Homo sapiens: one gene and its partner. The protein of the gene in region 1 purifies or fractionates together with the protein of each later gene. This does not show direct contact. Each region holds a gene or a part of one and is shown on either strand. Other genes may lie near its edges. The genes, in order: RAET1L and PCDHA7.

Region 1 (3,916 bases):
TAAGACAAGGGGGCACTTGGGGTTGCCCCTTTGATAATGAGTCCAGTGACCATCTAGGGGCTGAGCAGAGGTGTGGGTGCAGCCATGGATTCAGGTGTGGTTGGCCACGGATTGGTGTGCTGGAAAGTGAACCCCACACGTGTGTAGACTCCTCCCTCGGCTCCTGCTCTTCGTGGAAACACAATTGATTACATGATTGAGCAAGTTGTTCACTAGGTCTTTTTAGGAAGGGATGTAGTATATTCTCAAAGACCTCATGCTTCTAGCAGAGAGGCAAAGAAATGTGTGAGCAATTGTCACACAGGGAGATCTGGATGCACCCACTGTGAACCCAGGTCTCAGGGAGCAGGAGGGTGTTCTGTATTGTGGGAACATGCAGGACACACATGGGAGGGGGTATTTGTGCCCGGCTTTGAAGGATGGCTGGCTCTTTGCCCAGGGGGAAGAGGCCAGCAGAATGCGCTGACAGTTGGGAACCACTAGGAACTTTCAGTTGAACCTGCTCTGCTGAGCCCCCTGTGCCATCGGTGGACCTGGGCCAGGGCGGCTGCTGAACTGGGAGCTCAGAGGTAATCTCTCTGAGGAGCTTTCTAAATCAGCAAGCGTGTCACAGGTTGAGATTCTAGGGATGAGGTCCTCAATGCTGTCCTCGATTTTAATGAGCAGCCTTTTGGCCAGTCTGCACTGGGTGAAGCAGAAGCAAGACATAAATTGTTAAGATAATTTTTAAAGCTGCTTAATTTTGGTAAAAACATAGAACATAGAATTTACCATCTTCACCAATTGTTTACTATACAATATGTTGTTTTGAACCTCTGAAACCCTACCTGCTGTTTCTGTAATAAAACCTAGCCCAGGCCGGGCACGCTGACTCATGCCTGTAATCCCAGCACTTTGGGAGGCCGAGGTGGGTGGATCACCTGAGGAAAGGAGTTTGAGACCAGCCTGGCCAACAAGGTGAAACCCCATCTCTACCAAAACTACAAACAATTCGCCGGGCTTGGTGGTGGGCACCCGTAATCCCAGCTACTCCAGAAGCTGAGGCAAGAGAATCGCTTGAACCCAGGAGACAAGGCTGCGGCGAGCCGACATCGGGCCGTTGCACTCCAGCCTGTGCAATAAGAGAGAAACCCCATCTCCAAATACATAAATAGATAAAGAAATAAAAAATAAAACCCAGCCCGGACTGTAACCACGCCCACCGGGGACTGGGGAAGTAGTGGAGGGGACGCGAACAGGCCCATGGCTGTGCCCAGGGCGGGGTGAGCCAGGGACCCCGCGGCGCAAGCGGAAGGAGGGAGAGTGCCGCGGACCCAGGCGGGGACAAGGAGACGCCGAGGCCGCTGAATATTCCTCTGCACGTTTCTTCACCATTAATAAAAAATGCTATAATGATTAAATGAGTCTGTCGTGGAAGGAATCGTGTCCTGGCAGGAGTGGGGCCCGGGCACGAGGCCACCAAGCTGCCGGAGCGGGTGAAGAAGGGAAGGGACACTAGCATGGAAACTGGATTTCGTCCAGACAATGAAACGAAGAGGTGGAACGCGCCCAGTGACTACGCCCAGTAGCATTAAAATCTGGCTTTTCAGAATCGAGGTGACTCATTCCCCGGTACATTCCCCAGTAACTAACAGTATATAAGCCAGCCTTTCAGCACAGAGGTGATTTCATCTTCCAGGATCCACCTTGATTAAATCTCTTGTCCCCAGCCCTCCTGGTCCCCAATGGCAGCAGCCGCCATCCCAGCTTTGCTTCTGTGCCTCCCGCTTCTGTTCCTGCTGTTCGGCTGGTCCCGGGCTAGGCGAGACGGTGAGCTGGTGGATGGAGCCTAAGCGGGGCGGGGGCCAAACCTGAGGGACTGTGGACTGCAGCGGGTTTCAGAGGAGGGAAGGCTTCTGGAAGGACAAGGGAGATCTCCCCGAACTGCGCCCCCAGCTCAGTTCCCCTCCTGGGCTCCTTCCCGCCGGGTCCACTCCCCAAGGCTGTTCTTGCCCCAGTAGGGGCGAAAAAGAGCAGGGTGAAAACGAGGCTGGCAGGAGGGTGGAGGGGCCAGAGGGCTGCGAGGGCTAGGTGGGGCCCGGATTCCTAGTGCAGCCCGGCAGTCCCACCCGCCTTTCGGAAGGAGAAACCAGAGCCCCCCCGGGAACAGAGCTGGGGTCAGGACTGGGTGAAGGGGGGTACCACAGGGATACAATCACAGACGCCCCCACCAGCCACAAGCCTGCTCTGCTCTCACCTGCTCTCTACCACACAAACCCTCCAGCACCCCCAGGACTCCCTGCCTTTGTTTTCCCCGCACTTTTCCTGTAGACACTCACCTGCACCCAGGGGCTCAGCAGATACCCGCCACCCCTCCCCTCACCATCCACTGCCACCACCCAGGTCACATCCTCTTACTGCCCACCTCAGCCCAGCTGGTCACCCCTGAGGTCTCCCCATCCATGAAGGGTACCTCACCACCTCCTACACCACGTCGCACCTTCTGCCTCTTGCCTGAGGACACACCCCAACAAACACACCCCAAGCTCCCCTCAGAACCTGTGCAGGGGGGATGGGAAGCACCATTTCCTCCAGGATGACCCTGGGAACTCTGGTGAGTAGAGGCACCCACTTCTGCCCTTGGGGCCCAGACCGCCTGTTCTTCCTACGGGGGTGTCAGCGTCATAGAGAATAGTCACTGTGTAGACAGGGGTCAGCAAACCCTTTCTAGAAAGGGAGGAAGGATGCCCTGTGATCTTTGCAGGCCATGGGTTCTCCGTCTCTGTGTCCAGTCCTGTCCCTTTGTAGAGCAACAGCAGGCAATGGCAACCTTCAAAGAGGGGGGACCAGATTTGGACCCTGTCCTAGGTTGCTGATCCCAGATCAGGGGATTACAGTGTCCCAGTGCCCCATCCCCTAGGGTGTCATCTCCAAGTGATGTCTCTGATGTCAGTTGGAAAGTAGAAGGTGGCCCTACCTTGCCTGTGGCTTCTGGGTGGTGTGGATGTGATGGGAGTGGGGGTCCCATAGTTGGGGGCTTATTCTCCCCTCCTTTGTGCTGAGTGGCATCCATGGGGACCATCAGGTACCCTCCCTGAAGCCTCAGGTGTGAGCTGAGGGTGAGTGGGTGCAGCCACGTGGTGTCCTGGGGATCAGGTCCAACTGCTTGTGCAACTTCTTGGTTCCCGGTGGCCCTGCTCCTGCCCATCCCAGAAGAACCACCTGCATCTTCTCACTGCTGGGCCTATCTTCCTAATGACCTAGAGGGCGAGGAGCCCACCAGTAATGGGCAGCTCTGAGGCCTTCAGGAATAGGCATCCCTAAGCTTCATTCCATTCTGGTGCCTTGTCATGGGGCCTTCTTTATATGCATGGCAAAAGGCCCCATCTCTGCCAAGGTGCAGTACTCTACAGGAGCCACTGCTTAATGTTGCGATTTCCTTGCTGTGAGTGGCATTGCCTTGTCTCTGAATATTCACATGGAATCTCTGTTGTGATTCTCCAATTAGACATTGTGACCACATGTACCTCTAGGATCTTAGGGGGTCTTGGGTCATTGGGCACTTAAGGTAGGTCCAGCCTCGCTCATCATTCATGGATTGTCTATGGCTGCTTTTGAGCTTCAACAGCAGAGTTGAGTAGTTACAATGGAGAATATATTCCCTGAACACCTTTACATGTTTACAAAATTGCCCTTCACAGCAAACTCTATTGGCCATAAATATCTCTGGAGAAGGCCACAAGGACTCACTGTCCTGGCTGCAGGGTTAAAGGGTCCTTCCTCACTAGAAACTGGTGTCTTCTTATAGTCATGGGTTCAGGGTCTGAGAAGTGGCTTCATTCTGCAAATTAGGCAAAGCAGCCTCGTTCTTGATGGACTGGCTACTTTCAGCCTCCTGATTTGGTTTATCTCTGTTTCTTGTAATTATTTAAATCCA
Region 2 (3,916 bases), on another chromosome or scaffold:
CGGTGGCTGTGGCTGTCAGCGAGGGCTCCCCGTGGTCCTTCACAAGCACCAGAAGGCGGTGGCGCGGTGCGTCCGTCTCATCTAGGGCTCGTGTCGTGCTGATCTCACCAGTGTACAGCCCCACGCGGAACGGGATGCTCGCACCGGCCGCCACCGGTTGCAACTCATACGAAAGCCACGCGTTGTAGCCTGAGTCAGCGTCAACTGCACGTACCTTCGCCACCACATGGCCCGCGCCCACAGACCGCGGCACAAGCTCTCTCACTGCGCCACCAGTGCCACCCACCCGAGGCGCCAGCAGTGCCGGCGCGTTGTCGTTCTCGTCCAGCACGAACACCTGCAGCGTCACGTTGCTGCCCAGAGGCGGCACGCCCGCATCGCGCGCGCTCACCTGGAACTGCAACAGCTCCAGCTCCTCGTGGTCCAACGGCTGCAGCGCGTACACCTTGCCGCTCTCCGCGTGCACTGACACGTAGCTCGACAGCGCGCGCTCGCCCACCCGCAGCTCCACCAGCGAGTAGGACACCAGCGCGTTCTTCTGCGCGTCCGCGTCCCCCGCCGACACAGTGAAGATGTGGCAGCCCGGCGGGTTGTTCTCCTTCACGAACACCGTATACTCGGGCTGCGCGAACGCCGGGGCGTTGTCGTTCACGTCGGCCACCTCCACGGACACGCTAGCAGTGGCCCACAGAGAAGGCGAGCCCCCGTCCCGCGCGGTAACCACCAGCTCATAGGCGGACACACTCTCGCGGTCCAGAGCGCTGTCCAGCACCAATGAATAGTAATTCTTGAAGGTGGACACCAACTTGAAGGGAACGCGGGGCGTCAGGGAGCAGGTAACCTGTCCGTTGACTCCAAAATCTCGGTCAAACACGCTAATCAATGTGATGACGGTACCTGGTTGGGCGTCCTCTGGAATAGGGAGAGACAGGGAAGTGAGAGTCAACTGTGGAGCATTGTCATTTACATCCACAACTTCCACAAGAACTGTACAATGACCAGCCAGGGGTGGGAAGCCTTTATCGACAGCCTCGACTGGGATCTTGTGTGCTCTACTTTCTTCAAAATCCATATGTCCTATCACTGTGATTGCCCCACTTAAGGGGTCCATGTGGAACTTGGATTTTATATCTGGAGAAACATCACTGGAGAAGGAGTAAATAATATCCCCATTCAAGCCTTCGTCTAAATCTGAGGCATTGGGGTGAATCACCAGCGTTCCGATAGAAACGTTTTCTGGTAATTTCACCGTATACAGGGTTCTGTCGAACACTGGGGCATTGTCATTGTTGTCCAGTACCGTGATGAGTAATTGAACGGTGCCAGTCAGCTCGGGTTTGCCTCCATCGGTGGCCGTGAGCAATAAATGAAGCTCCGGAGTTTCTTCTCTGTCTAAAAGTTTCCGTAATACAAGTCCAAGAGGTTTTACCTGCTGGTTGCTGGTTGGCACGTCCAGGAAGAAATACTCATTGGGGCTCAGTCTGTAAGTGAGCAGGGCGTTCTCCCCGATATCTGCATCGGACGCGCCCTCTAGTGGAAACCGAGAGTCAAGCGGCCTGGATTCCGCGATGAACAGATTCCTTTGTGTCGCTGGGAACACCGGAGGGTTGTCGTTAATGTCCTTCACCTCCACGTCCACATGGAAAACCTGCAGCGGCCTTTCCACGATCACCTCCAGGTGGATGCTGCACTCCGCGCTCCGCCCGCACAGCTCCTCGCGGTCGATCCGAGAATTCACAAACAAAATGCCATTCTGCAGATTTACCTCCAGAAGATCCCCACGGAATTTGCACACCGCCCGGAACAGGCGCGGCACCAGCTCCGCCAGCTCCAGCCCCAGGTCCTGCGCGATGCGGCCCACGAAGTTGCCATGTTTAGCCTCCTCGGGGACCGAGTAGTGGAGCTGGCCTCTCCCTGCCTCCCAAGCTGCTAGAATTATAATAAACAGCAGTAGATGTCGGCCCCCTGGGTCGTATCCATTCGGGCACACCATTTCAAATTATTGGCTTGTTTTTCTAGTCAGCAAAACTTGCCTTCGAATTTATAGGAATGTTTTTATCCCTTCATTTCAATCTCGATGTGTGGCCATTGTTGTGCATCCAAAGAGTGAAAGAGAGTGGAGCGTCTTTCCAGTGCGAAAAGGAATGACTTCCTTTTGCTGATTACGAAAGAATTTGCGGTAAAGAGCGACATCATGTGGCCATCATGTAAGTAAGAATTACAAACCATTACAAACTATTAATCAGATGAAAAGTTTTATTTCAAACTCTGAATTTTTTTCTTCATTGTTGTTAAAGGTTAAAATAGCATTTCTCATGATTGTTAGAAGCATTCTTAGGCGACTGATGGCTTTTGAATACTCAGTGTTACCAGAACTGTAGCTTCCTCATGCCTTAGAAAAACTTTTTTTTCACACAGTTTTAAATAAAGATAGAAACCTAAGTGACAACATGAATTTAAACAACTGCAAGTTTAAATTCCTTTGATCTAGATCCCAGGAAACTTCATATTCTTGATTCAGTATCGCTTGTTAAGAAAAATCCTGTACTCTTTTAGGGACCCAGGATCTCAAGAATCTACTGATTGATGAAAGAGAAACTTAGAAAGCGGTGTGTGTGTGTGTGTTTTCTTTTTAGGAGGCAAGAAACATTAGCAACTATCCAGACACTTCTCTTGGGAAAACAAAATAAGAGAAGGTTTGGGGAATCTTTGAAGGGGAAGAATTTGTATCATGTGAACTTTTTGAGGAGGAAGTATTCTGAATTTTTTGCTTTAGCAGAATCTATATATACTGTTTCAGGAGTTCATCATTTTATATTTGTTTCCTCATTCTATCCTTTCGAACACTTGTGTGTTATGAATATATGCCTATTTTTACAATCTCAAATATGATTTGTATTATTTCTTTTAAAATGTAAGTTTATTTTATTAGATAAATTTCAGTGCTCAGCCATCTCACATACAGCAGCCCTTTGATCAAGTCTTGAGGTATTTCATCCTTTTTGGATCTACCTTACTGTGTTCGTTTTCTGGAATGTTTCACTCCAATGTTCCCAATGGCATGTAAAATAATTATGTCTGTATTCAGATGCTTTCCTAAATAAGTTTTTATAATTGCTGCTCTCCTGGTGTATTGCAGTAGCTTCTTATTGTGTAACCTGTCCATTCCTATTTCATTCTCCTTCATTTAATCCTTGCAGTCATCTTCCGTTAATACTTTTTATTCGTATTGCTTCACACTTTTTGACAGCTTTCAAATGACTTTGAAGAGTGTCAAAATTACTCGTCTAGTACTCAAAGTTATACAAAAGGTTTTTCTCATATTACTTTTCTTGCTTTATATCACACTCTCTCTTATGGGAACCATGTGCTTTACCCAAAGTGGACTATTCCTCATTTCTAGGTACATTTGGAATTTTCTGTATACTCACTTAAGTTACTCTCTTCTCATGAATACCTGTTAGTCTCCATATTCTCCCAGGGAAAACTCTTTCCATTTTATAACCAGTAAAACATCATGACTCTTCACGGTCTCCTTCAACAAGGGAAAAAGGCAAAGATTTTTTTCCAATTCCAATAACACTATGATGTACCTTTCTAGCACCTCTTACAATATTCTTGCTTTTACTATCATCGTATTTATGTAGGATACTTACCTTTATTTATCTATTAAATTTGAAGCCAGGTCTTGTTAATTCGATGATTCTCAGCAGGCACAGTGTGATACTCTTAAAGACCCTCCTAGGAACTTTTTAAAAAACATTTACTCACTAGCAACGCTATAGTTCTCTACTTCCTAAGAAAGTATGCTGTTTTGAGGCTGTTAGATATCATTAGCTACACAAATGGTGATCTTCAGTATAATCAGAGACAATTCTGCCACTCTTAAGTATGTAGAGTTAGTTTTTTTAAATTT

Evidence for each region.
Region 2: the proteins of RAET1L (region 1) and PCDHA7 purify together in Homo sapiens (affinity purification with mass spectrometry; one large-scale study listed by BioGRID and IntAct). This does not show direct contact.

Annotation. Positions count from the first base shown.
Region 1 is NC_000006.12:150,023,280-150,027,195, reverse strand, and holds the start of RAET1L (UL16-binding protein 6 precursor), read left to right. Parts: upstream 1-1,663; 5' UTR 1,664-1,724; coding exon 1,725-1,809; intron 1,810-3,916. UniProt on the Homo sapiens protein: Binds and activates the KLRK1/NKG2D receptor, mediating natural killer cell cytotoxicity.
Region 2 is NC_000005.10:140,832,461-140,836,376, reverse strand, and holds the start of PCDHA7 (protocadherin alpha-7 isoform 1 precursor), read right to left. Parts: upstream 2,109-3,916; 5' UTR 1,994-2,108; coding exon 1-1,993. UniProt on the Homo sapiens protein: Calcium-dependent cell-adhesion protein involved in cells self-recognition and non-self discrimination. Thereby, it is involved in the establishment and maintenance of specific neuronal connections in the brain.